3 separate regions of the Homo sapiens genome follow, and all the other regions are linked to region 1. The links come from fine-mapping of genetic effects on gene expression. A gene starts in region 1. Each other region holds a variant in brackets. All regions are shown on one strand. Distances are from middle to middle. Region 1 holds the start of LMBRD2 (LMBR1 domain containing 2). Region 2 has its middle 130 kb from the start of RANBP3L. Region 3 has its middle 13 kb from the start of UGT3A2.

The links.
Region 2: its variant is fine-mapped to the expression of LMBRD2 in lymphoblastoid cells (GTEx, PIP 0.99).
Region 3: its variant is fine-mapped to the expression of LMBRD2 in whole blood (TOPMed, PIP above 0.99).

The regions. Positions count from the first base shown.
Region 1 is chr5:36,147,271-36,157,603 of GRCh38, reverse strand. LMBRD2 (LMBR1 domain containing 2) reads left to right here and starts at 5,717. Exons shown (of 18, transcript NM_001007527.2): 1 at 5,717-6,048. SKP2 (S-phase kinase associated protein 2) reads right to left here and starts at 5,493. Exons shown (of 10, transcript NM_005983.4): 1 at 5,334-5,493; 2 at 4,562-4,833. The coding sequence starts at 5,341. MIR580 (microRNA 580) reads left to right here and starts at 9,616; the gene lies at 9,616-9,712. It also overlaps the pseudogene RNU6-1305P. RefSeq lists enhancers at 5,187-5,376, 5,450-6,433 and silencers at 5,647-5,786, 6,387-6,446.
Region 2 is chr5:36,431,616-36,441,948 of GRCh38, reverse strand. No RefSeq gene overlaps it. Among named protein-coding and RNA genes, the nearest start is that of RANBP3L, 130 kb to the right of the region's middle. The variant A/G (reference allele first, on the strand shown) is at 4,397.
Region 3 is chr5:36,074,447-36,084,779 of GRCh38, reverse strand. No RefSeq gene overlaps it. Among named protein-coding and RNA genes, the nearest start is that of UGT3A2, 13 kb to the right of the region's middle. RefSeq lists an enhancer at 5,316-5,365. The variant C/T (reference allele first, on the strand shown) is at 6,107.

The sequences.
Region 1 (10,333 bases):
ATACCCCATGCTTTCTTTCTGGGGAACTACAAACAGATTGTGCCATCCCAGATGAGTTCTCCTTCCTCTTCCCACAAACCATAAATAATACATTTGAGGCCATGTTGGCTTTGGGTGTTTTTGTTTTTTTGGCTAAGGTGGGCAAAACTGAAAAAAACAAAACACAGCCAAACTTAACAAGGATTCCCCCATGTACCCCTTCAGTCCCACAACCCTTTATTTCTATGAAAGACTTGCTCAACCCTGAGGTGTAGGGGGTGTAATGAAGAAACAACAGAAGCTGGGATTTGGAAAAAATATGGAACAGTGTATAAGCACTATGAGGGCAGGGTCTCTTGCCTGTTATGTTCAGTATTGTAGTCCCAACCTCTAAAACGGTGCTTGAGAAATATTTGCTTAATGGATGAATGAAAGGAAGCTATGGAACAAAGAAAGATGACTGGGAAGATCCCATAAAGGCTCTTCCAGTGCTGAGTTTAGTAACTGTAGACTGAGACTCACATAGATCATGAAATCAATTTAGTGGGTTTGACTAGCATATATGTACATATAAAGAATGAACTAGAACAGAATAGAAAATATCTTAGTAAGGGGAAATACAGTTTTGTAAAACTGCTGTTTCAGATACATACCCAGGATTGCAATGTAAAATATGTTTCTTACTGGTTAAAAAAAAAAAGTTGGAAAAAATGCTTGCCTAAGGGTATTAAGACACAGATTCCCAGGCTCACTCAGGCCAGGACTCCCCGGATCAGAATCTCAGGAATTTTACACTTTGAACAAGTTCCTGTGGGGATTCTGATATACAGTAAATTTTAGTATCTCCAGTCTGACAACCACTTTAGGGTCTGGAATTTCAAGCATTTAAGAGTCATGGAAGAGCTGATCAACAAATTAGTTCACCTCCATTTTCATGGCTATCACCTGTTTAAAGGGTGGGGTGGGGGACAAGCATTTCATGACCATAAATAAAATGCAATTGTCCCCTTTCCGCCTGTTACTGACCTCATTGCTGGGCCATTTCCTCCCCAACTCTTTCCATACACTCACTCCAAGGGCCAATCAGACCTGTTCTAGTACAGGTTGGCCACAGAGCTTTCATCTTCCCAGATAAACGGATGAAGAGGATTTAGTTGCCAGATGTACGGCTGGACTGGGGCCTGCAGGGAGAAACTGCTTAGCAAAGAACCAACAAAAACTTGCAGCCCAGAACCAGTCATCAGATATCTATGTACAGCAGGTGTGGCCTGTTCTACCCTAATCCTGGCAAAGCTAGTAGCCACCTGTCCTGACAACTGCAGACAAAACTCCTTGGAATGACAATCCGGCTCCACTGGAGGCCCAGGCTTCCAAAGGCCCATTGGGAATCCTCTATACCAGCTGTCCCTCATCCTGCATCACTGATTTCACCCTTCCCCACTCCACACCAATTAAGCAATCTCTGTTGTAAGTCCACGTACATTGGTTTCCCTCTGTGCCTCTCCTTAGGTAATAAACATAAAAGTCACCATTCTTTCTCTCTCCCTTCAGATATATACTTTTGAAGTCAGCTTTAACCATCAAGACACTGATTACACCATTTTCAGAGCCCTCTCTTTCCTCAGAATCTCCTTTCTTGCTGAGTGGAAGGAGGAAGATCTTCCACATCCACCTGAATGGGAATCACAGCTCTTATTTTTTATTGTATTTTCTCCTCAACTTGACTTGCAAATTCCTGGGAAATAGCAAAGACTCCGGAAACTTCTGTCTTGTTCCCACAGTGCCTTGCTTAAAAAAAATTCTTTTTCACTTGTGGAAGGGCATATAGCAATCACACTCTATGTCAAAAGCTATCGGCACTGGACAGGTTAATAAAAATCTGTTCATCTTAGCAGGAAGTATCTTTCGCCATATTTGGTTGGTCAAGCACCAGATTGTTAGGGCTACATTCCAGACACAAAGAAGAGCGGTGAACATTAAATTTTGAAGAAAAAAAATTTTATACTAACAGGGTCAGAGTAACAATATTAAAAACAAAAGATAAAAGTCCACTAGCCTCCAAAATTGGTGTCAGGAATTTTGTTGGCTTATGTATTGTTACGTGTCAGTGGCATGCTAAGGGTTTTACGTCATTCTCATTTAATCTTCACGACGACCTGTGAAGTGGGTATTATTACAGCACTCCATTTCACAGATAAAGGAACTAAGGCAAAGAAAGCTCGAATAACTTTCCAAGGCTGATAAACGCAAGAATGAGGATTCAAACCCAGATCTGACTTCACTACAACCCTCTACTGCTTTTCTAACTAATCCAATTCCTGATGTATATTCCCAGACCATAAATTGGGCAAAGTTCTCTTTCCTAAAGAAAAGGCTGAAAACAAACGTATTTATTTTCTTAATTAAAAGTGGAATGCATCTCGAATCCGCATGTCTTCCTGCGCAGGGGCCATGCTAATCTTCTCTGTATTTCCAGTTTCAGTATATGTGCTGCCAAAGCGAGCAACCAACCAATCAACTAAACAACCAATCTATCAACCCTTCTGCAAAGGAAACCAGATGGGAGAATTTATGAATATACTTAAATTACCTTGGGTCTGCAAGACTTCATCTTTAAATGTTTAATCTGTTTCTTCTTCGCCATCATCCCCCACCTGATTTCAATTTAGACTCTGATCACCTCTTCCACAGATGATTTCAACAGCCTCCTAAATTCTGTTGACTTTAATGTGGGAATATATCCGGAATCTGACCACCCTCACCCCCAACAAGACTTCAAGCTTTGGCCAGGTGTGGTGGCTCATGCCTGTAATCCCAGCACTTTGGGAGGCCAAGGCTGGAGGATCGCCTGAGTCCAGGAGTTTGAGACCAGCCTGGGCAAGATGGTGAGAACGCCCCCGCAACCTCCATCTCTACAAAAAATAAAAAAATTGCTGGGCGTGGTGGTGCATGCCTGTAGTCTCAGTTACTTAGGAGGCTGAGGCAGGAGAATCGTTCGAATCCAGGTGAAGACAGTGAGCCAAGAGCAGGTCACTGCATTCCAGCCTGGGCAACAGAGCAAGACTCCGTCTTGAAAATATGAAATTTAAAAAAGACCCTAAGTTTCTACCCTTGATGCCCCTGCAGCTGAGTCTCAACACATCAGTGTGTCATTTTTAGAAGGTTAAATCAGGTCCCATCACAACTCTGCTCAACATTACCTCCAGCCTGATCTCCCCCGACTCTCCCTTTCGCTCATTCCACTCTTAGAATATGGCTTCCCTGTTCCTGGAACAAATACGTCACATTTATGCACCAGGGTCTTTGCAGTGGCTGTTCCTTCTGCTTGGAGCTCTTTTCTCCAAGATATTTGCATGGCACACTCCTTGCCTCCTTTATGTCTTTGCTTAAAGGTCACTGTCCAATTGAGGCTTTCTCTCAATACCTGGTTTAAAAGTGCACTCTATCTTCCCACCCCAAGACCTGCATTCCCTCTTGGCTTGTTCTATTTTTGTTTTTAGCCATAGCTCTTATCACCTTCTAACATACTATATAAAAATAGTTATTGTGTTTATTGTATTCTCTCACTAGAATGGATGCTCCCTGAGAGCAGAAATGTTTGTTGTGCCCACTCCTCTATCTCCAGCACCTGGAACACGGCCTAGCACATGGTATGTGCTCAGCAAATATTTGCTGTATTACTGTTTTAAATAGCTTACTAGTAAGAAAAACTGATAACCCCAGGTCAATGCCCTGTTTATCCTATGGCTTTTGCATACTCCAGGGTTCTGGTTCACTCTGGGAGGCACTCGTTCGCCTGCTTGAGGAACTAGGGGATGGGGAGCTATTAAGGAGGGAAGATACAGTAAGTTCTACATTTCAGTCAATCCATTCTAGTTCGGGGGATAGATCTGGGGAGAAGAAGGTTGGAATTATGAATCCACTCCAATAGTTCAGGCAAGAGACGACGAGAACTTGAGAAATAGTTACCAGAGAAGAGGGAAAGATGCGATGAATGACTGGATGTTGGGGGGCGGTGGGAAGCTGACTGACTCTCAGGTTTTCGGGTTGGGTGATTAAACAGATAGTGTCAGCAGTAATGGAGACAGAACATACCAGGAGAAGCCAATATGGGGGTGGGAGTGGGCCTGGGGAGATGTCTCCCCCACTTAGGTGAACGTTCACTTCGCAGTCCACTGATAAATAACTAAAGTGATTAAGGCAAAAAGATCACTCAGGGGTACAAAGCAAAAGGAATCCTACAAGAAGACCACTGTTTATGTTTCTGTTAAACGGTGAAACTGAGCTGGCCTTGAGGCAGGCAGATTCCCTTCTAAGGAAAAAGGCAGGAATGTCTTCTCATGGGTTAAAATTTTCAAGGTGATTATGCACCAGAACATACATATATATATATATATATATATATATATATCTACCAAGATTCCTGCATACTTGACGACTTGCCCTATTTTGTTGAAAAATAGCTTCAGAATTAGGCAATCTTAAAAGGAACCCATGCTAAAGATCTCTGAACAAAGGTTTCCCAACAACATAGCTAAATCCACCCTTTGCATAACTGACATTTTTACCCTCATGTCCTTACCTGGAAAGTTCTCTCGATTTAGCTTAGGCCTGCGGACAATCACAAAGTCTTTGTCACTCCCTTTGCTCTTCAGCCGTTTCCGTGGGGGGCTCTCCGGGTGGCCCAGGTTTGAGAGCAGTTCCTGGGGGATGTTCTCACTGTCGGGCTCCTCTTTCTCCAGGGCGGAGACCCCCATGCCTGACAGCAGTTCAGAAGTCTTGCTGGAATCCCATCCCCACGTGAAGCTGGTGGCAACGTTGCTACTCAGGTCTGGAATCTCCTGGAGGTGCTTCCTGCAGAAGTGCACAATACCCCCGGTTCCTTTCGAAAACACACCCATAAATAATTTCAAGGCAATTAAAGAAGCTGCAGTTTATGCATTGTAGGAAACCTTCACAGCAGCTAACAGAATCGCATTTTTTATGTGCCTGCGGCGAGTTACCAAGAAAACGAAGAAATGAAAAGAACAAATCGAGAAGGCTTTTTGACTTACGATCCTGCAGAAGGCCTCAAGAATTTCTCCCAGTGGAGGGAACAGACAAGGAGAGAGACAGGGCAATCATACACTGATTGAAAACGGTGGCAGAAAAGCCCAATTAGGGAAGCCAAATAAAACCACACGCTGATCCCCGCACTAAGGCATCCATCCATTCACACTTTCCCCAAGAAGGGGCTAAGCAACCATTCACTTAACAGCATTACTAACAATATTAGCCAGTAGCGATATTCGCGGCCTAAAAGAATTATTAAGAGGGTCCATTTCATGCTCTTCCCCTTTTTGCAATCCGTTTACCTGTGCATAGCGTCCGCAGGCCCGGGAGTTTAAAATACGTGCATTAACTGCAGAGCTGCTCGCCTCCCAGATTCCCGCTTTGGCGCGCGGCGGCTCCGAGCGTGCTGCTCGGGCCCCCAGCAGCCAGACCCGCTAAGCCTAGCAACGTTCCATCCCCACTGCGCGCGCAAGGCTCTACAGCCCGCTCTGCTTCGCGGCCGCACTGAGGCCCAAGGCCTGCTGGGAATTGTAGTTTCCGTCCCGCTTCGTAGTCCGACGGGCTCGCCCTTACTTCCTTCCCTTGCAGCTTTACCCGCCTTCGAGATACCCACAACCCCCCGCGGGAGCGGGACTGGTCGGCCCACGGGGTAGGCGGGGAGGCGGAAGCGGGCGGCGCTACGGCTGACTGGGAAATGTCAGCCGCTGGACTGTAGACGGATTTTCCTTTCTCGGGAGCCCGCAGGCCTTCTGGTGATCGCCAGCGCTGTCGTCTCTGAGCGTGGATCCCAGAACCTGGACAGCTGTGGCGGCCGCCGTTTCCCGGTCCCGTCCAGACGCTGTCTGGCGAGATCGGACGGTGAGCCTAAGGCGGAACGCGTGAGGCGCTTTTGAGTCTGGGGTCCGGGGCCGAGAGCAGGCGGAAAGAGAGGGGACCCGGCAGACCCCGAGTGGCCGCCGCTGCGGGGCCCAAGTCCTTGGCTGCTGAGTGGTGACAGTAGCCCAGCCCGCCGGCCAGGTGAGAGGCTGCGAACTGCTGGCGTCGCACCTGTTCGTCCTTTTGCCAGGAAGCTTCTTCCTCCGTCGGGGAGAAGGCGGCCCTAAGAATTGGGTCTGTGGACGGGATCCTTCCTTTATCTGTAAAATAACGCACAACAGCTAAACACGCCGTTGGAACGAGAGACAATGGTTTAATTTTAGGGGAGCCGGAGACCCCAGCGGGTCCTGTGTGGTGGGAAGGCTGCGCATGCCCTTGCAGCCTTGACAGGTCTCATAAATAGCAACATGGGAATAAATGAAAGGACTGTATTTTGCAACGAGCTTTACCCGTGCACGCAGGGGGCCTCCAGCAAAGCCATTTGGTTGCTTGCTGTCGCTCAGCTGGCTACGTGTGTTTGCGTCGCCGCCTAAAAGCGAGCTGCTTTCAGCCTATCTCTGCTGAGAAGAGTTTGGGGGCAGTAAGAGTAGGGAGCGTGACATATTCCAGGTACAATGACCATGCGAAATCCATTGGGCAAACTATACTACAACTGTGACCCCGGGAAAACAGTGGAAGAGGGAAGGGGGATGAATTCTAAGCCTCATAAAAATGAAGATTTATAAAGTTCATAAGGAAGCATAACAGCTTCATCGCATATTAGAATATTCAGTGATGCTGTATGACACACCCTCTGGTTTCCTTGAAAAAATGATTCGCTCTGTAGTGAAATTAAACCTCCCTTGTGCAGGTATATGCTTGTTTCAAGCTTGGTCCTTAGCTTGAAAAGTAACTGCCTCTTGAGGAAGGAATTCATGAACCTTTAGCTCGTTCTTGAAAGATGAGATTGGTGTAAAGAAGGGATCTGTTCACAACTTGGTTTTGATTGGAACTAGGTGCAGAATCCTAGGCTAAGCCGTTCATCAAACTAATGTTATATGGAAAGCATTTTAAAATGCAATATCCTGATGTTTTACAGAAAGTGACCTTTATGTTACTTTGGCTAAGGAGAAAGCATTTGCCTTTGTTTGAAGCTACGTCCTTTCCCTGAAGATTGCAACTCATAGGAGAAAATATTTTTGACACAAAAAATTATAGTTTCCTTCAGGAAAGGGAACAAAACAGAGAGAGCCTGTAAGCTAATGGAGGAGAAAGAATAAACAAAAATATTTAAGATGCCATAATGAGAATAAACAGTTTTGAGATGTAAAATAATTGGGAGAGCCCACTTCAGATATAGATCTCATAGATAGGAAGGTTTAATCGATGAGATGATTCTAAATTTAAAGATGAGAAATATCTTTGTTCAGTCTTGGTTTTACTAGGAGTTACCTGGGAACTAGAATACTTGCAACATCTGAATTAGTGAACACAAGATCCTCTCTAGGACTTCAGGGAGAGCCTGTCAGTTTTGAAATTCAGTTTGATAGTTTGCCCCGGTAACAGACATACTTCATCTTCCTAATATGGGAATAATTTTTTTTTGCCTTCCTTCTAATCATGACTATTGCCTTAATATAATAAATGCAAGTTTAAATTGGTACATTAGATTCTTTTTAACGTAAGGAATTGTGTCCATTGAAGACGAGATTAGTAGGTACATAGAGGTTGCTATCTGGTCATAAAGAACTGCATTGTGATTGCTACTGATGTATCTTATTTTTTCTGATTAATTTTATTTTTATTTTTTGAGAAGAAATTTCACTCTTATTGCCCAGGCTGGAGTGCAATGGCGCAATCTCGGCTCACCATAACCTCCACCTCCCATGTTCAAGCAATTCCCCTGCCTCAGCCTTCCTGAGTAGCTGGGATTACAGGCATGCGCCACCACGCCTGGCTAATTTTGTATTTTTAGTGGAGACGGGGTTTCTGCATGTTGGTCAGGCTGGTCTCGAACTCCCGACCTCAGATGATCCACCCACCTCAGCCTCCTAAAGTGCTGAGATTACAGGCGTGAGCCTCCGTGCCCAGCCGATTCTTACATCTCTTTAAAAGGAAGACGGTCCACCCTTCTTTGTTTCTCCATCCTGCTGTCTAGATGATGATAGGATTCCTGGAGTTCCAGCATCTGTCCTGGAACATAAGGATTAAAGCCACCTGCTAAGGATGTGGACTATAGAAGGGGCCTGGGCCTCTGATAATCTGCTAACTTGCCATAACCACCTATCTCAAGACTTACACGAGAAATAAATTCTGCATTGTATAAGTCTGTACTATATTGGACTTTTCTGTTATGTGTAGCCAAACTAATCTTGAATAATGTATTTCCAGAACTGATAGTCTCTGTGGTGGTGGCAGCTACCTGTTTACATAACCCTTATCACCCCCTAATGTATTTTTTTTAATTGCCTGTTTCTTCCCACTAGACTTTTTAAGGGCAGGGACTTTGCTTGGATTTTTCTATCTCCAGCCCCTTGAACAGAGCTCACCATATAGTAGGCGTTCAGTAAATATTTGCTAAATGAATGAATGGTGCTTGGAACTAAGTAGATCTTTAATTCATTGTAATTTAATGCTCTAAGATAGGCAGCTTGGGGCAAGAACAAACGGATTCTAATTTACTCTATGTTTTCCACTTTTCCCATGTAGAGTACAGTCATATATTACCCTTAAATCAAGTAATAGTAGTATAATCTGTAATGTAAAAAGTTTGCGTTAAATTCTTTATTAAACATGACTAAGCATTCTGTCCTGATATATCTAAAAGAAATGGGAGAAAGTTTCTAATTTGTTCCCTGTGAAGACTGAACAAAATAAATCATTAAGCAATTTAAATTGCATTAAGAAACTATGTCTAGATTAGAGAAGAGACATGTAATTATGATCCAGGCTCTGTAGTAAAGATGCCTCTATTTGAATCCCAGCTTTACCATTCACCAGCTCTGTTAACTTGGACAAGTTACTTAACCTCTCTGCACTGTTTTTTTTCTGTTAAGCAAGGAAACGAACAGCCCTTTCTTACTAGGTTGTGAGGTCTAATTTGATAAAGCTTGGCAGGTACTAGTATTAATACAATGCTTAAAATTTAGTGAACACATTCTAAATGTTAGCTATTCGTTTTTTGAAATTATTTTATTATTAGGAAGGACTTTACAGATTATTCTCTATCAAAATGTCTTGCAATTTCTATGTATGAAATCTTTAAGAATTCAGTAAAATTTTAGTTCTTTTTTCTTATATGCTTACATGATTGCTACCTCTTCTCTTCATGCCTTGCAAAAGGTAAAGCAGGACAGTATGCCACTGTCCTCAGGGGCTTGTCACATTTTGGAATTCAGGTTACCTGGTTGGTTCGCCAACTCAGCTCTTAGGTACCTTTAAAAAATATTATGATGGTTTTTTTTTTTTTTTCATTTTTCGAGTGGGAGTAATAGTCTCTTGCAGTAGTCTGTGTCCTAAACTGAACTCTCTCATACCTGAAATCTTTAAATATGTGAATAACGATTATGTTTGGAAGATTTAAATTTAATTATTGGTGGAAAATTGTTGACTTAATCATTCACTTCTAATTCTGGTTCTTTTGATTTTTCATAATTAGGATTTTGAGTTGTCTCCTGGTTTTTATTATTTTGCACATATCTGAGTAAAAATACAGATATGTGAAGTTAGATAAAATTTCCAATTGGAACCTAATGATTCATCAGACTCAGATATTTAAGTTAACAGTATTTGAGAATGATGAATCATTAGGTTCCGGTCAGAAATTTTTCATTCAGTTTCAGAATCTTTGGTTTTGACAAAATTGTTGTCAGTGTTTTGTTTGTGTTCTGATCACTTGGTACCCATTCTCTCTCTCTCTCTCTCAAAACATTTGGAATTCTTCAAACTACAAAATTATCTTAACCTCTGAAGTTCCATCAAAGGGTATTTGGCCTGAAAAACTATTATCAGCCGTAAAGTACTCAGGAAACAGTACTTTAGTCAGTAACATTAGTCAGTAACATTAACACGCTAATTGTGAAACCATTATAAAGGCATTTGAAAGTAATATTGAATAATATTTTGATGATTGGAAAAAGATTGAATTGGATTTTAAATGTTTAAGACTTTCAGAACTGGTGTTTTGAAGGGTACGATATGCCCACACATCGGGCACTAAAATCTGGTAGTTTTAATGAATTGCCATTTTGATTTCGAGTATAATCAAGTTTTGCTACTGTGGTGCTTAATCACATGGAACTGAATTTTTATTTACCTCCCCATTTTAGTATCACCATCATCATCATTATCATCATTATCATCCCCTTTCTTCTCCTTCTTCCCTAAACCTTGCAACTCATCACTTGAATGTTGGCACAAGGTTAAAGATATGGACTTTGAAACTATT
Region 2 (10,333 bases), 280 kb before region 1:
AACAAATGTTGAGGCTGGTGCTGACTATCTTCAGAGCCAAAAGGTGACCTTCTTGTCCCCTCTGCACTCACTGAATCATGGGGACCACATCCCCATCTTCTGATCCCCATCCAAAGCTGGTTGTGCCAGTCACAGATCGCAGAGCCCATCAGTGCCCCAAGGGCCGAGGGGTACATTTCAGGCCTTGTGCAGCCTTCTCTGAGCTGTACTTTCCTTTGATTCTGTTGTTCTTGTTCCATCCGAGTGGGACCTCTGTTCCTATTCTGAAGGCCACTGTTAAGTCCTATTCACTCTGAATGGCTCATTTAGTTCAGTGGGGGTTTGGGTTTTTAGAAGGTTTTCTCTTTTAAATTCCTTTTTTTCCTTTTTTTTTTTTTTTTTTTTTAAGAAAAAGGGTCATAAAGAACTTTAAGATGCCATGCATGAAAAGCTCTGGATAAATGCAGCTTGTACTGGATTGTAAAATACTGTATTGTTCCAACCTTAATTCCTTGTGTGAGACTGGAATTGGTAATTTCCTGGTCCAGGGCAGAGGCTGAATACCAACAGACTGCAGACTGGAAGCAGGGGCGCTGTGGCCTGGGAGCACTTGGGGAGAATTTATGGGGAAACCAGAGGTCTCTACAAGAAATTCTCCTTTTGGCCCAGATTAATTTTCCTGACTTTTGCATTAAAGTAAAATAACATTTTTATGAAAAAGCACATCTCTGCTCTCTGCAGTGGCATTTGGGGGCTGGGGTGTGCCGCTGTCTGGGGTCACAGACCGTTATAAATCACATAAAAAGCTTCCTCAGCTCTTCTGCTCTGAAAACTCACTCTATCTGGGGTGTGAGCATGTTTGCTTAGCGGGCAGTCCTCCTTCTCTGAGCTATGGAGACTGTTTTGACCTTGAATCTCCCTCTCACCTCTCTTGATGCTTAGGTCCCAGAATCACCCAGTTTCATGCCAGCAAGACCGAGAGCCCCTCACATTCGCCACACGTGTCCCTGACTCCTCGTACCTGCCTCTATGCTTCCCTGGAATCCTCCGCTTCCCATCTGTTTCTCTGTAAAGACTGATCATACTTCCCTGCTTCCAAGCCATCTCCTCCTTAAACTATGACTACTTGCAACTTTGTTGGTCTCCCTGAGTCTCTGATCTCTATGGTACTCATAGTCATGAACACACATTTTAAACCCCTTTTTTGGTTTGAGTTTGGTGCCCAGGTTTGATTGTAAACTTCTTGAATGCCGTTCATTTCCTGTAATTTGTATCTGCCATATGTGCTTTCATATGAGCCCAGCATAAAGCCAGAGCCTCATAAATTCCCATTGGTTGGATTTCTGATTGATTGGTTGGTTGATTGATAGATACCCAGGCCCCATATGCCCAGATGTCTGAGGTAGTGCTTTGCTCATGGGGCTCCAGGAGTCAGCAGAGCTGTCCCTGACTCCTGTATTCACATGAGCTGATAATTTCACTCCCCCACCCCCACTTCATCTTAGGAGCAAGATACAGCCTCTGTTCTGGTCCCAGAAAAAAAGTTTACTCGCGCCACAGTTTTGTGAGGTTTCATAGACTTTTACTAAACATTTGCGTAGATGGTCGGGGAGCTACTTTGGCAGGGTGTAGCATCTCACCATCTTCCTTCTGTGTAACGATACACAGTCCTTGTGCATGAGGCTATGTGCTAGCAACCACCTTAAATGACTTATTAAAGTGTTTCTTCTGAACAAATACCATGCTTAGTCAAAGAATAATTGCAATAAATTCTCATTATTCTCCTGGTTTTTACAGCAGCAGTACCCAGAAGCGTTGAGTTTGCCCTCTGTGGATTCAACTACTAAAAGTGTTCATCAGAGAATGCAGCCACTAAGGGAACCTGGGGTTAAAGAGATTTCAGATATTTCCAAGCCTCCTAGTCAGTAGACGGTCACCCTGAGCCTTTTGCCCCTGTCTTAGCACTGTGGGAGACCAAGAGTGAGGTCTGGGTCCCCAGTAAACATTGCCAAAAGTGCCCCTCAAGATCTGGGCATGAAAAAGTAAACAGATCTCCCAGGCAGAGCTTGGCAGCTCAGACCCCCACCCCTCCCTGTCAGGAGCTGTTCACATGGGTGTCTGTGCATCTCTGGCCCCAGGCTGCCACTCTGCCCCAGCTTCCAGCCTCCTGCCTCATGGATATAGCAGGTTTTTAGTCATATACTTTCAGAACAGCATAGATTTCACTTTAAGGAAAAACAGACTTGGTGCTTGGGTCATTGCTGTATCCTTGCTATTACACTTGCCTGAAAGAGTCCCCCTCTCAACTTCTGCTCCCAGGCTTCCCCCTCTGGCTTGGCCTTTTGTGCCACTCTTCTGTTTTTTTTGCTCCTCAGATGTGCACACATTTTAAATAACATTCCTTCCTGAATTTGTCCCTTCATTTCCCCAGCTTCTGTGCTTGGGGACTCTCCAGCTCCCATTCTTTTTCGCGCTAATGTTCTCTTCTCCATCCTTTGTTGACATGCCAATTTATTCAGCGCTTGGCTTCCCCTTCCTCTCCTCACTCTTTTCCATTCCTTACACTTCTCCTAACTGACAAACACTCCCCAACAGTGTGTCTGTGTGTGTTTGGGGTCTAGACGAATAAACCTATTTTGGCCCTCATATCCTTGATGAGGTGGGGAGACAGGTTTCTTGTTCCCCCATATATTCTCCTAAATGTCAGTGCGGTCAATCTGGGCACAGAGCCAAGTTTATGCACAGGCCAATGACTGTGTGCTGTGCAGGGTGCTGGGAAGGCCATGGTAGCAGTCACTCTTGGTTCTTTGCCCACCAGCCATTTTGCCTTTCTTCTTCCTAACTGAACCCTGATTTTGTTTGGGCATATAGCCACCTGTGCAGTCATATGTTTCAGGGGAGGTGAGCTTCATGCCTATTCCTCAGCTGTGACTCTTGATTGTTCTAAGTAATCTTGATTGGTTTAGGCATAAGTATGAGAAACAGTCTAGCCAATGAGAAGGAGAAAGAAGCCTTCAGGGTGGGTTGAAGGAGGGGCATCTGCAAAAGGCTGTCCTCTATCTTTAAATGCTACACTGGGGAGTTAAAGTCCTTCCAATGCCCTGTATGTTGTCTCAAGGCTGGGATGGTGAAATCTACTACAGCCCTCTTGCAAACATGAGAGGTCAAGCCTCAGAAAACAAAAACAAAAACAAAAACGGAAACAAAATATTCTGCAGAGAATGGTAGAAAAGAAATATGAAAAGGAGCTGTGTCCTTGATGGCATCTTTGATCTGCTGAAGCTGCCTTACTCTGAACTTGTTGTGTTTAAGATAATAAATTTCCCTTTCAAGCCATTTGTCCTAGGGCTTATTGTTTCTTGCAACCTAAAGTATCTTAACAAGTAGCTCTTCTGACTGAAAAGATTCCATCAAAACATACTTCTCTGTTCACGTGGGTGTCTGTGCATCTCTCTGTTGCTTAGCTTGTCATACACAGATCATCATCAGCAAGTAGGTACACATTTCATATCACTTTTTATGTGCCAGACACTGTTCTAAATGCATTGCATAAGGTAAATAATCCAACCCTTTCAAAACATTATGAGGTAAATACTCTAATTATCCCCATTACACAGATGAAGAAACTGAAGCATAGAAAGGTTGAGAAAATTGCAGGGTCCCCAAGCAAGTAAGAAGCAGTGGTGGGATTTCAATCTGGACAGTCTAGCACCAGGGCTTATAATCTTAAAATCAATGTTAAACCATCAACTTTGAGTAATTCTAGACCCTGCTAATCCTAGGAGGGGGCACATCTTTCCTGTCCCCATGCAGGTTCGAGTTAGCCGCCTTGCCTTGAGTGTAGGGCACTGTCCACACTTCCTCCTGTGTGTCTCTTCTCCAATGGAAAGAAACTAATGCCAATTTTGTTGGACCCAGAATTGGTGGCTACCTCATCTTTCCACAGCTGAAGATGCCAGGAAAATGCCCCTAAGGTGTCAGGGAAATGTGTCCCAGGGGTCACCATTCTCATGCATGCTTTATTGCTGGTGCAACCAAGGGCTAACTTGATTAAGCCCCCCAAACTTAGGTTAACCTGTCTTGCTTGCTTTTAATCATCTGCTTCTAGTTGAGCTGAAAACCTGTATATACGGTTTGGCTAAAAGTCATGTAGCCACACAATACATAACAAACACCGCCACTAGATTCCATATAGGTAACAGCTCTGATGTATATGGCACTACACTAATGGCTGCTTGAAGTTGTTTCTTAGGACCTAGTTGTTTCTTAGGACCTAGCTGTTTCTTGTCCAGTTTGAACCAGTTGAGACCACCAACCCTTCAACTGGGCCTGTGCAAATGCCTAAGAGGTGACCTTTTGATGTCAAAGGGCCTAAAACTCTTCCCTCCAATCATGCTAACATCACCATTTTCTGAAC[A/G]TAAGTCCTGTGAAGAGCCATGAACATCAACTATGCTTGTGCAAACCACTAATTACCTAATTTTTCCCCACTACCAATCACATTTCCCCACACCTTAGACCACCCTGCTTCTTTACCCTACAAATAGCCTTAAGCCCTGTCTTCAAGGAGGTAGATTTTAGACCTGTTCTCCCACCTCCTTGCTTGGCTCCTTGTAAATAAACTCTTTCTCTGCTGCAAAACTCGTCTTCTCAGTGATTTGCATGCTGTGTGATGGGTAGAATGGGTCTGGTTTGGTATCACTGGCAGGATTGCACCAGGATGAGTAGAACTGGACACTGGGCAGCTTGAAGGCTTGCCAAGGGAAGGCAGAGACTGGGAACCTCCCCACCTTCCCCTGGGCCTCACACTGGCCCAAGTTCAGGTTATCTCAAGTCCCTTCTGCAACTTAGGGATTCCTGGCTTGGGAGAAAATTGCCAAGGTTCCCACAGCTAGGAAGAAGCAACTGTGGGATTTGAATCTTGTAGACTGGATTCCCAGTGACTGGATTTCCAGTGAATCCAGTGTACAAGAACATGGACATTTGTTGTCGAAAGGATTTTAATAATCTCCTGGTCCTACCCTCTTCCACCTCCTTGATAGCACTCAGTGTCAGAAACCACACTAATTATTTTGACAAAGAACATTTAATATGAATGATTATATTCTTCAACTAGGGTTGAAGAATTGAAAAGGCAAAAAGATGTATCACAGAGGAGGGACTGCAGGAAGCAGCTACCATCCTTAGGGCTGTGGAACAAAAGAAGAGATTGGAATTTCTAGAACTTAGAAACCTAGAGAAAAAGACATCTGAGATTGGAGTGCCTGTCTGCTGGTGTTGATGGGGAAAAGAAGTGTTGTTAGGGTTGTGCTGGCAGGACCATGAAGCCCATGGAAACCCAACAAGAAGCCATAGGGAGAAGCAAGTCAGTTCTTCCTCTGCCAACTTTGCAGTCATCCTCTAGTGCTAGCTACTGTAGAGTGTAACATGGTGTCAGATGACACAGCAGCATCACAGAACATAGAAGGGAGGGTTTGAATCTAGAAAACAATAGCTAATTCTCTCTCTGTCTCTCCCACAAGAGAGAATAGCCAAGACGATTGCAAGGGAGATGTTTATCAATGGGAATTCAATAAAGTAAGAAAGCTCTTATTTAACTTCCATCTCATTTGCACTGGAGGCATAAGAGGAGCAACCACGTGAGAATAATGCTCTAGAAAAGTCGGTGTGCATGAGGCTTAAAAGCCACATGGTAGGAGCAACTTGTATATGGTTTGTTGCAGGAAAGTTTAGTGTTTGCTGAGGGGATTGTCATTAGATCTTTTCTGAATTTTAGGTAAAATAAAGAAAGGAATTGGATAACATTTGATTATCTTCTTATTTCTTCCTTTGATGCCTATTATTCCCATAATATTAGCATTGTCCTTTAAAGGATCTTCTCTTCTCTCTGAAAAAATGCTGCCCTCATCTCTTGAGAAACTGGGGAGACTTCATCTCCACTTCTGGGGCAAAGAGTGATGTGTTCCTGGATGAATGAACACTTACTAAGGACTTTCTATGTGCCAAGCACTTAGAAGTACTCTTACCACTTACTACCAGTGTAACCTTGGTCAAATTACTTTTCACACTTATGAAATGGAGATACTGCCTATTTCATGGAGATAGGAAGAATAATGGAGACACTGGAAAGCTCCTAGCCCAGTGTTTCTCATGCCTTGTATCTCATTGTTTGCTTATGTGCTTAAACTCCTTTGATCTCAGCAGTCTTCATAACAACTTGGTGAGAAAAAGCATATCTACCTTCATCTCGCAAGTAAAGAGCCTGAAGCTCCAGGTAGTTAAGTGACTTGCTCAAGACCGCACAGCTGAGCCAACAAAGTGCAACTCGAATCCAAATCTTACTCTTCTAAAATCTGAGTTACGCTGAGGCCAGCATACCACCTTCTAATGACCAAATTGGAACTCAGATTACTGCTACCTATAGAATTGATCTAGAAGTAAATACAATTAGCCCAGAATAAAATGTTCATCTTCCTTAGTAGTCAAGGCAATGCAAATTAAAAGAGAAGCCATTTTTTTAGCCTTTTAAATTGGTAAAGATTTGAGGAAAAGTAGAGCTGGTTAAAATGCTCTGCTTCTGGTGTTAGTTGGCCTGGGTTGAAGTTTCACCTCTAGTACTCACTGGCTGTGTAGCCTTGGCCAAGTCCTGTAATCTGTTGAAGACTCAATTTTCTTATGTGTTAAAGGAAGATTATGGTTGTACTTATCTGATAGAATTGTAGAATTTAAATGAGATTATCTGTGTAAAGAGCTTAGCCTGGGGCCTAGCATATAAATATTTAAAGAATGTCAAAGAAAGGAGAAAGATATTTGATACTAGCGTTGGTAAATGTATAGTGGGACCTGTATTCTCATTTACTGGTAAATGCTCAAACAAGGGCAAGTTGGTCTAACTATTCTGGAGAATAATTTGCACTTTGTATAAGAACTTTAGATGTTCATATTCTTTGACCAAGCAGTTTTACTTCTAAGAATATGTTTTAAGTAAACAATTGAATACGAATGACGTTTCATTTATATAGATGTTCCTTTTAGTGTTAGACAAACAAAAATGGAAACAGTCAAATATCTAATTATTGAAAAAGTATTAAATAAATGTTGGCATTGTCACAGGTTGAAATACTACACAACAATAAAATGATGTTTATGGGACATTTTTAATGATGAAAGAAATACACATATTGTGAGAAAAAGTAAGATGAAGAGAAAGAGCATATGTTAGAATTGTCTTTTCAAATTAGAAGAAAAGGAAAAATTCGATAAGCATTATTAAAATAGTTTTTATCTTACACGTACAAAAATGTTTTATCCTATACCTTATCACTAAATTAAATGTACAAAATTAAAATGTACAAAAGATCTAAATAATGAACAACTGCTCAAGAATATTAGAAGGAAATATCAGCAATTTTTTATGACTTTGGTGTTTATAAATTATTCTTAAGACACACAAGAGCAAAAATCATTAGGGAAAAGGTTACTAAGTTTGATTACATCAAAAATTTAAAAATTCTCTTTAAAACAGAAGCATTCCCTTAGTCAACAAATATTTACTGGGCATCTATTATAATGCCAAGGACTGTTGAATATTCTGGGATATAGCAGATAATGTCTCTGCTCTCTTAAAGCTAATATCTAAGAAGAAGAGGTAGAAAAAGAACAAGTGATAATATAAATATTGAATTTGTTGAGTGGGAGCAAGAACTACTAAAAAAAACACATTAGAGTAAGAAACATAGCAGAAGTGACAGAAGTGAAGATTACTATTTTATTGAGTGAGCAGGAAAACCTTCTCTGAGAATACGACATTTGAGCTGAGGCTTGATGAAATGAAGGAATGAAACATATGGGTATCTTGAGGAAGAAAATTCCAGGCAGAGGGAAGAGCTAACGAAAGCCCTGTGTCAGGAGTATCCTTTATATATTTGAGTTTAGTAAAGAGACCAGCGTAGCTTGAGCAGAGTAAGCATGGGAAAAAGTAGGAGAAGATAAGGTGGGAGAGGTAGAAAGGTGGCAAGTGACACTGGATATCTGGTCCTTTGTATGAATGTTAGGTTTTATTCTGAGTGAGGTGGGAGATTACTGAAGAGAGAAACAGAATTTGGCTTAGGTACAATGAGAGTCACTCTGCCTGTAAGACTAATCTATAAGGTGGCAAGGGTGGTCATAGAGAGACTAGTTGGAGGAGACTGGAAATAATCCACATGACAGGTGATGATGACTTGGCCTAGGCTGACCATGGTGAATATGTTTTAGCTATTCTAGCTCATTTGCTCTTCCATATAAATTTTAGAAACAGCTTGTCTATACAGAATCTACAAAAAATCCTGCTGGTTTAATCTTTAAAGATCAATTAATGGTCTAACACTTTTTCATGATTTAAAAAACTCAAGAGAATAAAAACAGATGGGAACCTTTTCTACCTAATAAAGGGCATCTATGAGAAACCCACAGCTAGTATCACATGTAATGGTGAAAGACTGAGTGCTTTTCCTCTAAGATCAGAAACAAGACAAGGGTATCTGCTCTCACTGCTTCTATTCAACACTGTACCAGAGAATCTAAGCAGGGCAATTAGGCAAGAAAATGGGATAACAGTTATCCAGATCAGAAAGGAAGAGGTAAAATTGCCTCTATTCACAGATGGTACAATCTTGTATATAGAAAATCCTAAAAAATACACACACACACACACACACACACACACATTATTGGAGGTCATAAGAAATTTCCACAAGGTTGCAGGATACAAGACCAATTACAGAACCAGTTGTATTTTTATATTTTTATATATTTTTATACAATAGAATAAAAAGAATAAAACACTTAGGAGTAAATTTAACAACAGAAATGCAAGGTTTGTGCACTGAAAACTGCAAAACATTTTTGAAATAAGGAGTAAATGAACGAAAATGTGTTACATGTTCATAGGTGAGAAGACAATATTGTTAAAATGACAATACTTCCCAAATTTACCCACAGATTCAATGCAATGCTGTCAAAATCCCAGTTGACTTCTTTATAGAAATTGACAAGCAGATCCAAAAATTCATATGGAAATGCAAAGAACCACCCAGAACAGCTAAAACAACTTTGAGAAAGAACAGATGTGGAGACTATCACTACCTGATATCAAGATGCCCATCTCTCTAGGCTCGACTTATTCCTATAAGATATTTTAGCTTTGGGGGAATTGTTGGACCTGAACTCTGCAGGGAGGTTTTGCCCATGAGACGGGGCCATTTTGACCTGAGCACCCCTTGGTCTGCTGGCCTCTTCTGGGACCCAGCCTGGATGTGCCTGCTTGCAAGGCAGCCTCTGGTGCCTTGGGGGCCTGCATCATAGCTCCTGTGCTGATGGACCACCTGACCGGCAGAGTGCTCCAGCAGAGTGGGCCCCATGAACATGCACCAGCTCACCTGTGCTGCCCCCGATGCAGCCTCCCCCTGTGCCACTTTGCCTGCATGCACTTGCCCATGACCTCCCTGCACCATCCTTTTGCTGGTATGCGTACACCTGGGGCGACCTTGTCTTCCCTTCCCAACCAGTGTGCATGTGCACGTGCATCCTGCTGGTGTGACCATACCTTTCTTCCTCCCCCCTCCCCTCCCCCCATCCACCTCCCACTATCCCAATCCTCTGGCCACACCACCACTGTCATCAGAACTTTGGTGGGCATGGAGCCCACCAGCCCCATGCCTGCCAGCACCTGTCCCTGAGCCAACACTGCCACTGGTGCAAAACGAGTCATGGAGAACAGTGGACCCAGCCACTGCTGCCTGTGGGAATGCTCACAGAGGGTGCACACAGTCTTGTGCCCACCAGCACCCCACCCCTATGCTAACACCACCACAACTGTGAACACGTGCACAGTTGCTAATGGCATCCCCACCCAGCCGTGCTGCCCTGCAGCTGCTGTGAACACCCTCATGGAAGCCAGCAACCCAGCACCCACTAGCACCCAGCCACAGCTGATGAGCATGCATCTTACCACTTTTCTGCTGCCACTGCTGCTGGCACATGTGAACAAGGACAGATCCTGATGCCATCACCCTATGAAGTGCTTTGCTTGTCACCATCCATTGGCATGGATGTTGCGAATAGCCATTCAGTTTGGAAGCACTTTGACCCCTCCAGTGCAGCATGTTCCTAACCTTGAGGAGCCAGAGATAAAAGCCAGGCCCTGATACCAGTCCCCCAGAGTAACGGCATGCAGTCCAGGAATCCTATGCTGAGCCTGGGCCCCTTAAAATCTTCCAGAAATGAGACCAGTTGACTGAACTCACCTTATATCACAATCAAGCCTCCAATGTCATCAAGTAGGATAAAAGAAAAAAAATATCCAAAGGACAGCACC
Region 3 (10,333 bases), 73 kb after region 1:
AGGGATGCCAGTGATTCATAGATTTGGCCTCTTTACATAATCCCACACTTTTTGGAGGTTTTGTCCATTCCTTTTTATTCTTTTTTCTTTATTTTTGTCTGGTTTTCTTATTTCAAAGAACCAGTCTTTAAGTTCTGAGATTCTTTCCTCAGCTTGGTTTATTCTGCTAATTCTTGTGATTGCATTGTGAAATTCTTGTATTGTGTTATTCAGCTCTGTCAGATCCATTAAGTTCTTTTTTATACCAGATATTTTGTCCTTCAGCTCCTGTATCACTTTATCTTGATTTTTATTTTTTATTTTTTTGGATTAGGTTTTTCCATCCTCCTGAACCTCAATTATATCTGTTCCTATCCATATTCTGAATTCTATTTCTGTAATTCCAGCCAGTTCATCCTGGTTAAGAACTCTTGTTGGTGAACTGGTGCAGTTGTTTGGAGGACAAGGTTGTCCTCAATCTTGTTTCAATCACAAACAGCATCTAGAATTACTAAACTCATACAACACTTTGGTCATTTGAGTAACTGGAGTTTTTGCGTTGGTTCCTTCTCATCTCTGCATGTGGGTGTTCCTTTAACTGCAGTGTATGTTAAGTACAGCCAATAGACTTCTTTTCTGGATGTTTTCATTGGGCCATGGCTTCATGCAGGGTCTTTATTTGTAGCTGACTTCTTGTCTCTGGTTTCAGGAGGGTATGTTAGTGAGGTATTTTTGGTGTTGAAGCTTTAGGGTGTGATCCAGTAGGTGGAACTTAGGCTTATTGGTTAGTTGGTAAACTCTTACTTGGTTATGTGTCTCCCTTATGTTTCCTCATGGTTACAACTGTGTTCCTTCTTAATGCTCTGAGGGTGTGGGTTTCTCTCCCCATTGAGTGCTGGCTGTAGATCATGGCTTGGCATTCTTGGGCTTTCCACTACAGCTCTGGGGTGATCTCAGTGTTTATGTTCCTTTCCCAACTTGAAAGGAGCAAAAGAAGGGATCTTAGTAGTGGTTGTGGCCAAGGGCATTTTGCTTGTCTTCTAGGGGTTCCACCCCAGAGAGATGCAAGTCAGCAAATGCTGAGTGCAATCAGCTCAGGATGAAGGGTCTGTATTGTGGACCAAGCCAGGGGTTCCCTGTCTTAAGATGAGCAGTGAGGGGTATGTGGGACCCATGGGAGATGGACTGGCCTCCTCTCCTTAGGTCAACTGCAGCTTATTGGAGGTGTGAACAAAGCACTTAGGGTCTTTGCTTGTTTGTTAGTTGAAGGGTAGCAAAGGCAGTTCTACTGCAGAGGCAGTGGCAGAGAGGCTTTCAATTGCCCCTGGAGGCTCTGTCCAGAGAGTTGCCAGATTGCTACTGGCTTGATAGCTCTGGGGTTGGGGGCAGTTGCTGGAGGCCGAGGGCTGGAGGACATGCCTGATGAGGAGATATCGGAAAGGGCACCCATATTACGGTCTGGCCACTTTTCCATAGGGCTGTTGCAGTATGCTGGGGGTGCACTCCAGTCTGCAGTCACCTCAGATTTTCCAGTACCTAGAGGTATCACCATTGAAGGCTGTAAAACAGCAAAGATTGAGCTCTGTCCTAGGGAGGTATGGACCTGTTGCTGGCCCATACACACCTATAGGAGGTGGCTGGAGATCCTGGTTGGGAGGCCCTGTCTGGTGAGGAGGAAAGGATCGGGGACCTGGTTAAAAAAACAGTCTGGCCACATTTTCGTAGAGCAGCTGTGCTGTGCTGGGGGTCCACTTCAGCCCCTGATCGCCTTGGACTCTCCAAAATCTAAAGGCCAGAACAGCTAAGTCACCCAAACAACAAAGATGGCAGCCCCACTGTCCCTCTGGGAGCTCTGTCCTAGGGAGGTTTCAAAACTCTGTTGGCTGGAGAGCACTGGCAGGGGTGGCTGGAGACCCTGGTTGGGAGGTCCTGCCCATTGAGGAGGAATGGGATTAGGGACCCATTTTGAAAAGCAGTCTGTACAGGTTTTCACAGAGCAGCTGTCAAATTCTTTTTTTTCTACTTGCTAGATTTCTATCAAGCTGTTGAGGATTTCTATTGAGTTTTTCAGCCAGATATTGTATAGAATTTCTGTTGGCTTATTTTTATGGTTTCTGTCCCTTTGTTGCACTTTCCATTTTGTTCCTGTAGTGTTTTTCTGATATCACTTAGTTGTCTATCTGTTCTCTTGTAACTCACTAAGCTTCTTTAAAATGATTATTTTTTGTTTTTTTTTTTTTGGTCAGGCCGTATGTAGATTTCTATTTATTTTGGGTCAGCCACCAGAGCTTTATAGTGTTCCTTTTGTAATACCATAATTCATTGATTCTTTGTGTTCTTTGAGGGTTTTCTTTCTTTGTTTGCATTTGCAAAAGTAGTCACCTATGTCAGTCTACTTTCTAGCATTGCGAGAGATAGACCTTCCTCAGTAAGTCCCACTAGAGATTCTGGGGTCTCTCAGACCTTTTCTATGGATGCATCTGCTTCACTCCTCTTGTTCCCTCTAAGGGAGGAAGTCTTATGATTATGTTCTGTCTCTCAGTCCTGTAAAACCAGACCTGGTACTGAGAGTTTATCTGTTTTACCCAACAATGCCCCAAAGTTTTCAAGGTTGTGTGCTTCTTTTCACATTCCAATGGAGTTGAACCTGCTGCTAAAATCTGCATCTGCTATTCAGATCCATGTGCCATTTGCAGGAGTACTTAGGCCTTGTGCACAGAGATGCACAGGGCAACATCCTGGATGGACACACAGTATGTTTAAGGCATGCATTAGTTTGTTAATGGGGGAGTCTGCCAGCAAGTTTTCCTTGTGTGGGGTTTATGGGTGGGCCTTTTGCTAGAATCCTCAAGCCACTTAGCAGAATCCATGTCCAGCTATTGAGAATCACACACCAGTTGCTGTGTACTTCTTCCCCTTCTCAATGCTTCTAGCTGTCCCAGACATTTCAATTTTCCTGATCCCCTTAATGTTCTGGGTGGGCAGTGTACCACAGGCTGAGAAAACTTGTAATTCAGTTTTCATTTTCTCCTTTGGGAGAAACTGTGGGCTAAGAAGGACTCCCTGGGCACTGAGCTGTGCCACCTGCTACTTAATTTCTATTCTTGTGTCTTCTTTGGGTGAATTAGAGGTATACTGTTATTACACCGCTTTATTTCCCCTATTGACTTTTTAGTTTGTATGTGTGTGTGTGTGTGTGTGTGCATGTGTGTGGGTGGGTGTGTATGTTCATGTGTATTTGTATGTGTATGCGTACGTGTATCTAGTGGTTCCCTTAGGGATTATAACATGCATTTTAATTTATTGATCTATATTCAAAAATTGTCTATTTCATAACTAGATATAAAGAAATCTTCCTCATCTAATAAAAAGTATTTACAAATTCTAAACTGACGTAGCATTCAATGGTGAAAAAATAACTCTATTTCTTTTCCCTAAAGTCAGGAACATGACAGGCAGGTCCACTCTCGCCATTTCCTTTCAACATTATATGGAAGTCCATGGAATGCAATTAGGCCAAAAAATAAAATAAAAAAGAAAGAATAAAACTCTTGGCAGATTATGCATTTAGGTACATGGAAAATCCAAGGGAATCACAAATGGTTCAGTAAACTCTCAGTACCAGGTCTGGTTTTACAGCTATTACTAAATGAACCCAACCTTGTCATAGGATAAAAGGTCAGTTTACAAATATCAATTGTATTTCTATATACCAGAAATAAACAATTGAAAATTGACATAAAATGTCATAGTACATTTTATAATAATCATAAAACAAAATCTTTTAAATAAATTAAATGATCTGTACACTGAAAACTATAAAACCTTGGAAAAAATTGAAGAGGATGTAATTAACTGGAGATGGATTGGAAGAATTAACATTGTGAAGAAATCAATTTACCCAAATTGATGTCTAGATTCAATTAAATCTTGAGAAAACTATAAAATTACTATATAATTATACTATAAATGTCTTTGTTAAAATTAACAAGTTGTTTGCAATGTGGAATAGGAGAACTTCAGAAAAATTAGAATTCCAGATTTCAAGATTTACTTTAAAGCTACTGTGATTAAGGCAGTATAATATTAGAATAAGGCTATCAAGGTCGATCAATGAAACAGAATAGTAGTATTCAGAAATAACCCCACAAAAAATGATCTTTTGTTTTATGACCAAAACCCCAATACAATGTGGAAATAAAAGTTAAAAAATTTTTCCCAATAAATGTTGCTGAAGCAATTATATACCCACATGGAAAAAATGCCCAGCACTGTACATAGAAAATTTGAAATGAATCATAGACTGAAGTATAATAGATAAATCAATAAAGATTCTGGAAAAAAACAAGCGATGTATTTTTGAACTCAGAATATGCAAGGTATTTTTTATTGGACAGTATGAAAAGCACTAATCTAAACATAAAAAAATAAATACCTTAGAATTATGAATAGGAAATTCCATTAATCAAAAGATACCGTTAGGCGAATAAAGGACCAGTCATATACTGGGAGAAGACAGCACCCAATGTATATTGAACAAAGGACTCTGATCGAGAATATATATAAATTCCTACAAAAAATAAGACAAAACAAAAAAAATCCCACATAATTTGAAAAATGACAAAATACTTGCTTAGGCATTTCATAAACAAGGCTACCCAAATTGCCAATAATATATTTCAAAAGTATGCAACATCATTGGTAATCAGGAAAATGCAAATTAAAACAAGGAGATATTAATAACTAACACTAAAAAGACTTACTGACAATTCCAGATTTGGGAAGGCTGTGGGGCAAGTTGAACTCTCATACATTGCTGGTGGTAGTGGAAACTGGTACAATCCTTAGAAGAACTCTTTAGTAATATCTAAGAAAGCTTAACCTACCCTACCTTGTGATCAAGGAATTCCACTCCTAGATTCATACCAAGATAAATGAATGCACATTTCCAACAAAAGGCATGCATAAGAATGTTCATTGTAGCTTTATTTATGATGGTAAGAGCTGGTAACAATCAGATTCTCATTAACAATAGAATGGGATGAAGGGTGGGGTCCAACTTCCCCTCCCTATATGGAGCAGCCGTGCCCCGGCAACTGAGGACAGACCATGAAGTTTCCTGCTCTGGACTGGGGGAAGAAATTCTGCCCTGACCCCCATACTAGTGGTATCCCTCAGAGAGGTCAATCTGTGGTGTACAGCTACACTGTGGCCGGGAACCAAAGAACAAAGCCTTTGTAAACAGGTCATGAGCCCTGTGACGGGGCATGATATGGAAGCAGATCGTGTTCCTGCCAGCTCAGGACAAGGAGCTGATGCACTTTCTGCTCCACCTTCCCGTGAGACTTCAGCATACTCCAACAGGATCTCTTTCTGCCATCCTCATCAGGGAGGGCACGTACACTAGGCATCAGCCTACCTGGTAGCTCTTACTTTTTATCGCCATCTACTGGGCTCCATCTGAACTCCACCACTAAACAAAAAATACATAGCTACAGCAAACAGCATCTGAGATAGCTTGTGGATAGGTTCCACCGCCTAGAACCCATCCACAACCAAGGAACCCGTACAGAATACTTGTCTCCTGAAAGCACCTAGAAACTAAGCCAAATGATCATACACAATATGCACCACAGTCATACACCCCCAAGGGAAAAAATTAAAAAATGAAAAAGCCTCACCCAAATGATAGCAAATTCAAAAAAAGAAGTTACAGCATCTTTGGATGAGAAGGAATCAGCACAGGAACTCCAGTAGTACAAAAAGCAACAGTGTTTTACACTTCCAAAGGATCACACCAGCTACCTAGTAATGGATCCTAACTAGACGGAAATGTCTGAAATGAAAGGTAACTCAAAATATGAATTGCAAGGAAACACAATGAGATCCAAGAGCAAGTTGAAATCTAATACAAAGAAACCAGAAAAATGATCCAGGATATGTAAGTTGACATAGTTATATTAAGGAAGAACCAAACAGAATTTCTGGAATAGAAAAATTCACTACAGAGATTTCAAAATACAGCTGGAAGACATAACAATAGAAAAAACTAAGCAGAAGTGATGGCAGCGGCAGCTCCAGATGGCCTGCCGCTGCCATCACGCAGGCTGCAGTAGAGGGGTGTGGA[C/T]GGGGTTGCACGACCAAGGAGCAGGCAGGAGCCGCAGCCCCACGGAGCAGGCAGGAGTCGCACGCCCCATGGAGCAGGCAGATCTAAGCCTCCCTGTGCTCTTGAGGTCCAGGAGCAGGCAGGAACCCTGCCCTCCTGGGTGCCACTGCAGCTGCCCAAACCACAGCTGCAGATCCAGGCTAAAAGGAGTTCTGAGCATGGAACAATACCTGCTACAACAAAAGCACGTGTAAGTAAAGCCCATAGACTCTACATAAAACAACTACATAATAGAAACTACAAAGCAACTAGCTAACAACTAGCAACTGGCTAATAATACCACAATAGAAACAAAACCTCACATATCAATATTAACCTTGAGTGTAAATGGCCTAAATGCGCTCCTTAAATGACATAGAATGGCAATATGGATAAAAAACAGATTTAACCCTCTGCTGCCTTCATGACATCCATCTCACGTGTTCAAAATAAAAGGATAGAGAAAGATCTATCACTGAAATGGAAAATGAAAAGAAGCAGGGGTAGCAATTCTTGTATCAGATAAAACGGACTTTAAACCAACAATAGTAAAAGAGAACAAAGAAGGGCATTATGTAATGATAAATGGTTCCATTCAACAAGATGATTTAACTATCCTAAATATATAGGCATTCAATATTGGAGCACCCAGATTTATAAGACAATTACTTCCAGAAGTAAGAAAGGAGATAAACAGCCATATAATAACATAATAACAGCATTAGACAGATCACAGAGACAGAAAACTAACAAAGAAATTCTGGACTTAAATTTGATACTTGACCAAACAGAACTAATAGACATCTGGTGAATACTCCAGCTAACAACCACAGAATATATGTTATTCTCATCTGTGCACAGAACTTTCTCAAAGATTAACCACATGCTCAGTCATAAAGCAAATCCTAACCAATTTAAAAAAATGAAATTGCACCAAGCATCATCATGCACCGCAGTGGAATAAAATTAGAAATCAATACCAAGAGGAGCTCTGAAAACCACACAATTACATGGAAACTAAACAACTTGTTCCTGAAAGACTTTAGGGTACATAATAAAATTAAGAGAGAAATAAAAAATTATTTGAAATGAATGAAAATAGAGGTATAATATACCAAAATCTCTGGAATACAGCAAAAGCAGTGGTAAGAGGAAAGTTTATAGTGCTAAATGCCTACATCAAGATAGAAAAATCTCAAATTAACAATTTAATGTTGCACCTGAAAGAACAAGAACAAGAACAAACAAAAGAACAAGAACAAACATACAAGAACTAAACTCAAAGCTAGCAGAAGAAAAGAAATAACTAAAATCAGTGCAGAAACAAATGAAATTGAGACCCCCAAAGCCATAAAAAGGATCAATGAAATAAAAAGTTAGTTGTTTGAAAGGATAAACAAGATTGATAGACCACTAGCTAGATGCAGGGAAAAAAGAGAGAAGATACAAATAACTACAATCAGAAAGGGCAAAGGTGACATTACAACTGATTCCACAGAAATATAAAAGATCCTCAGAGACTGCTATGAACATCTGTATGGGCACAAACTAGAAAATTTAGAGTAAATGCATAAATTCCTGGAAATACCCAGCCTCCCAAAGTTGAACCAGGAAGAAATGGAAACCATGAATAGACCAATAATGAGTTTTGGAGTTGTATAAGTAATAAAAATTAACCCACTATAAAAAATTCGGCCAGGTGCAGTGGCTCATGTCTGTAATCCCAAAACTTTGGGAGGCTGAGATGGGTGGAATGTTTGAACCCTGGAATTTGAGACCAGCCTGGGCACCAATGTGAAATCTCATCTCTACAAAAAATACAAAAATTAGCCATGTATGGTGGTGTGTGCCAGTAGTCCCAGCTACTTGGGAGGCTGAGGTGGGAAGATTTCTTGAGCCCAGGGAGTCAAGGCTGCAAGAAGCTGTGATCACTCCACTTCACTGCACCCTGGGTGACAGAGTGAGACCGTTTTTTTGTTGTTTTTGTTTTCGTTAAAAAACAAAACATCCTGCTCCATCCTGGAGCAGATGGATTTATAGCTGAATTCTAACAGACATACAAAGAAGAGCTGGTGCCAATGTTACTGAAATTATTCCAAAAAGTAGAGGAGGAGGGATTCCTCCATAACTCATTCTAAGAAACCAGTGTCATCCTGATACAACATCTTTCAAGGACACAACAAAAAAAGGAAACTATAGGCCAATATCGCTGGTGAACAAAGATGCAAAAATCCTAAACAAAATACCTGCAAAGCGAATCCAGCAGCACATCAAAAAGATAATTCACCATGATCAAGTGGCGTTTATTCCTGAGAAGCAATGATGCCTCAAGATGTGCAAATCAATAAATGAGATTCACCACATAAACAGAGTTAAAAACAAATACCATTTGGTTATTTCAATATATACAAGAAAGCTTTTGATAAATCCAACAACACTTCATGATAAAAACACTCAACAAACTAGGCATTAAAGAAGCATACATGAGAACCATCTATGATAAACCCACATCCAACATCATACGGAATAAACATAAGTTGGAAGCATTCCCCCTAAGAACCGGAAAAAGGAAAGGATATCCACTCTTACCATTTCTATTCAACATAGCGCTGGAAGTCCCAGCCCGAGCCATCAGGCAAGGGAAAAAAAAATAAAAGACATCCAAATTTAAAAAAAGGAAGTAAAATTATCTCTCTTCAATGACGATATGATTCTATACCTAGAAAACCCTAAAGCTTATTCCAAGAGGCTCCTAGACTAGATAAATGACCAGTAAAGTTTCAGGATAAAAAATCAATGTACAAAAATCATTTACACTTTTACACATCAACAGTGTTCAAGCTGAGAACCAAATCAAAGATGCAATTCTGATTATTATGCATATTATGCATTGCATGCCTGTACCAAAATACCTCATGTATCCCATAAATATATACACCTACTATGTGCCCACAAAAGTTAAAATTTAAAAATAAAAAAATGCAATCCTAGGCCGGGCATGGTGGCTCACGCCTGTAATCCCAGCAATTTGGGAGGCCGAGTGGGGCAGATCACTTGAGGCCAGGAGACCGAGACCAGCCTGGCCAACATGGTGAAACCCTGTCTCTACTAAAATACAAAAATTAGCTGGGCATGGTGGTGGGTGCCTGTAATCCCAGCTACTCAGGAGGCTGACGCAGGAGAATCGCTTGAACCTGGGAGGAGGAGTTTGCAGTGAGCTGAGATCGTGCCACTGCACTCCAGCCTGTGTCTCAAAAAAAAAAAAAAAGGCAATTCTATTCACAATCACCAATAGAACCCCACAAAATACCTAGGCATATATCTAAACAAGGAAATGAAAGATCTCTGCAAGGAGAACTACAAAACACTGCTGAAAAAAAAATTGTAGACAACACAAAACAAATGGAAAAACATTCCATGCTCATGGATTAGAAGAATCAATATTGTTAAAATGTCCATACTTCCCAAAGCAGTCTAGAGATTCAAAACTATTCCTATGAAATTACCAACATCATTTCTCATTGCATTAGAAAAAAACTGTTCTAAAATTCATATGGAACCAAAAAAAGAACCCAAACAGCCAAAGCAATCATAAGCAAAACAACAACAAAGCCAGGCATCACATTACCTAACTTCAAACTATCCTGAAAGTCGACAGAAACCAAAACAGCATGGGGCTGGTACAAACATAGACACATAGATAAATGAAACAGAACAGCGAATCTAGAAATAAAGCCACACACCTACAGCCAACTGATCTTTGAAAGGTGGACAAAAATGAACAATGGAGAAAGAACACCCTATTCAATAAATGGTGCTGGAAAATTGGCTAGCTGTATGCAGAAGAATGAAACTGGACACCTACTTCTTTCTATGTATAAAAATTAACTAAAGATGGATAAAATGCTCAATATAAGATCTATGACTATAAAAATCCTAGATAAAAACCTAGATAAAACTTCTGGACATTGGCCTAGGCAAAGAATTTATGACCATGTCCTCAAAATCAAATGCAATAAAAACAGAAATTGACAAATGAGACCTAATTAAACTAAAGCGCTTCTGCACAGCAAAAAAACCCAAAACAAAACAACAACAACAAAAAACTATCAACAGAGTAAACAAACAACCTACAGAATGGAAGAAAATATTTGTAAATGATTCATCTGACCAAGGGCTAATGTTCACAATCTACAAGGAATTTAAACA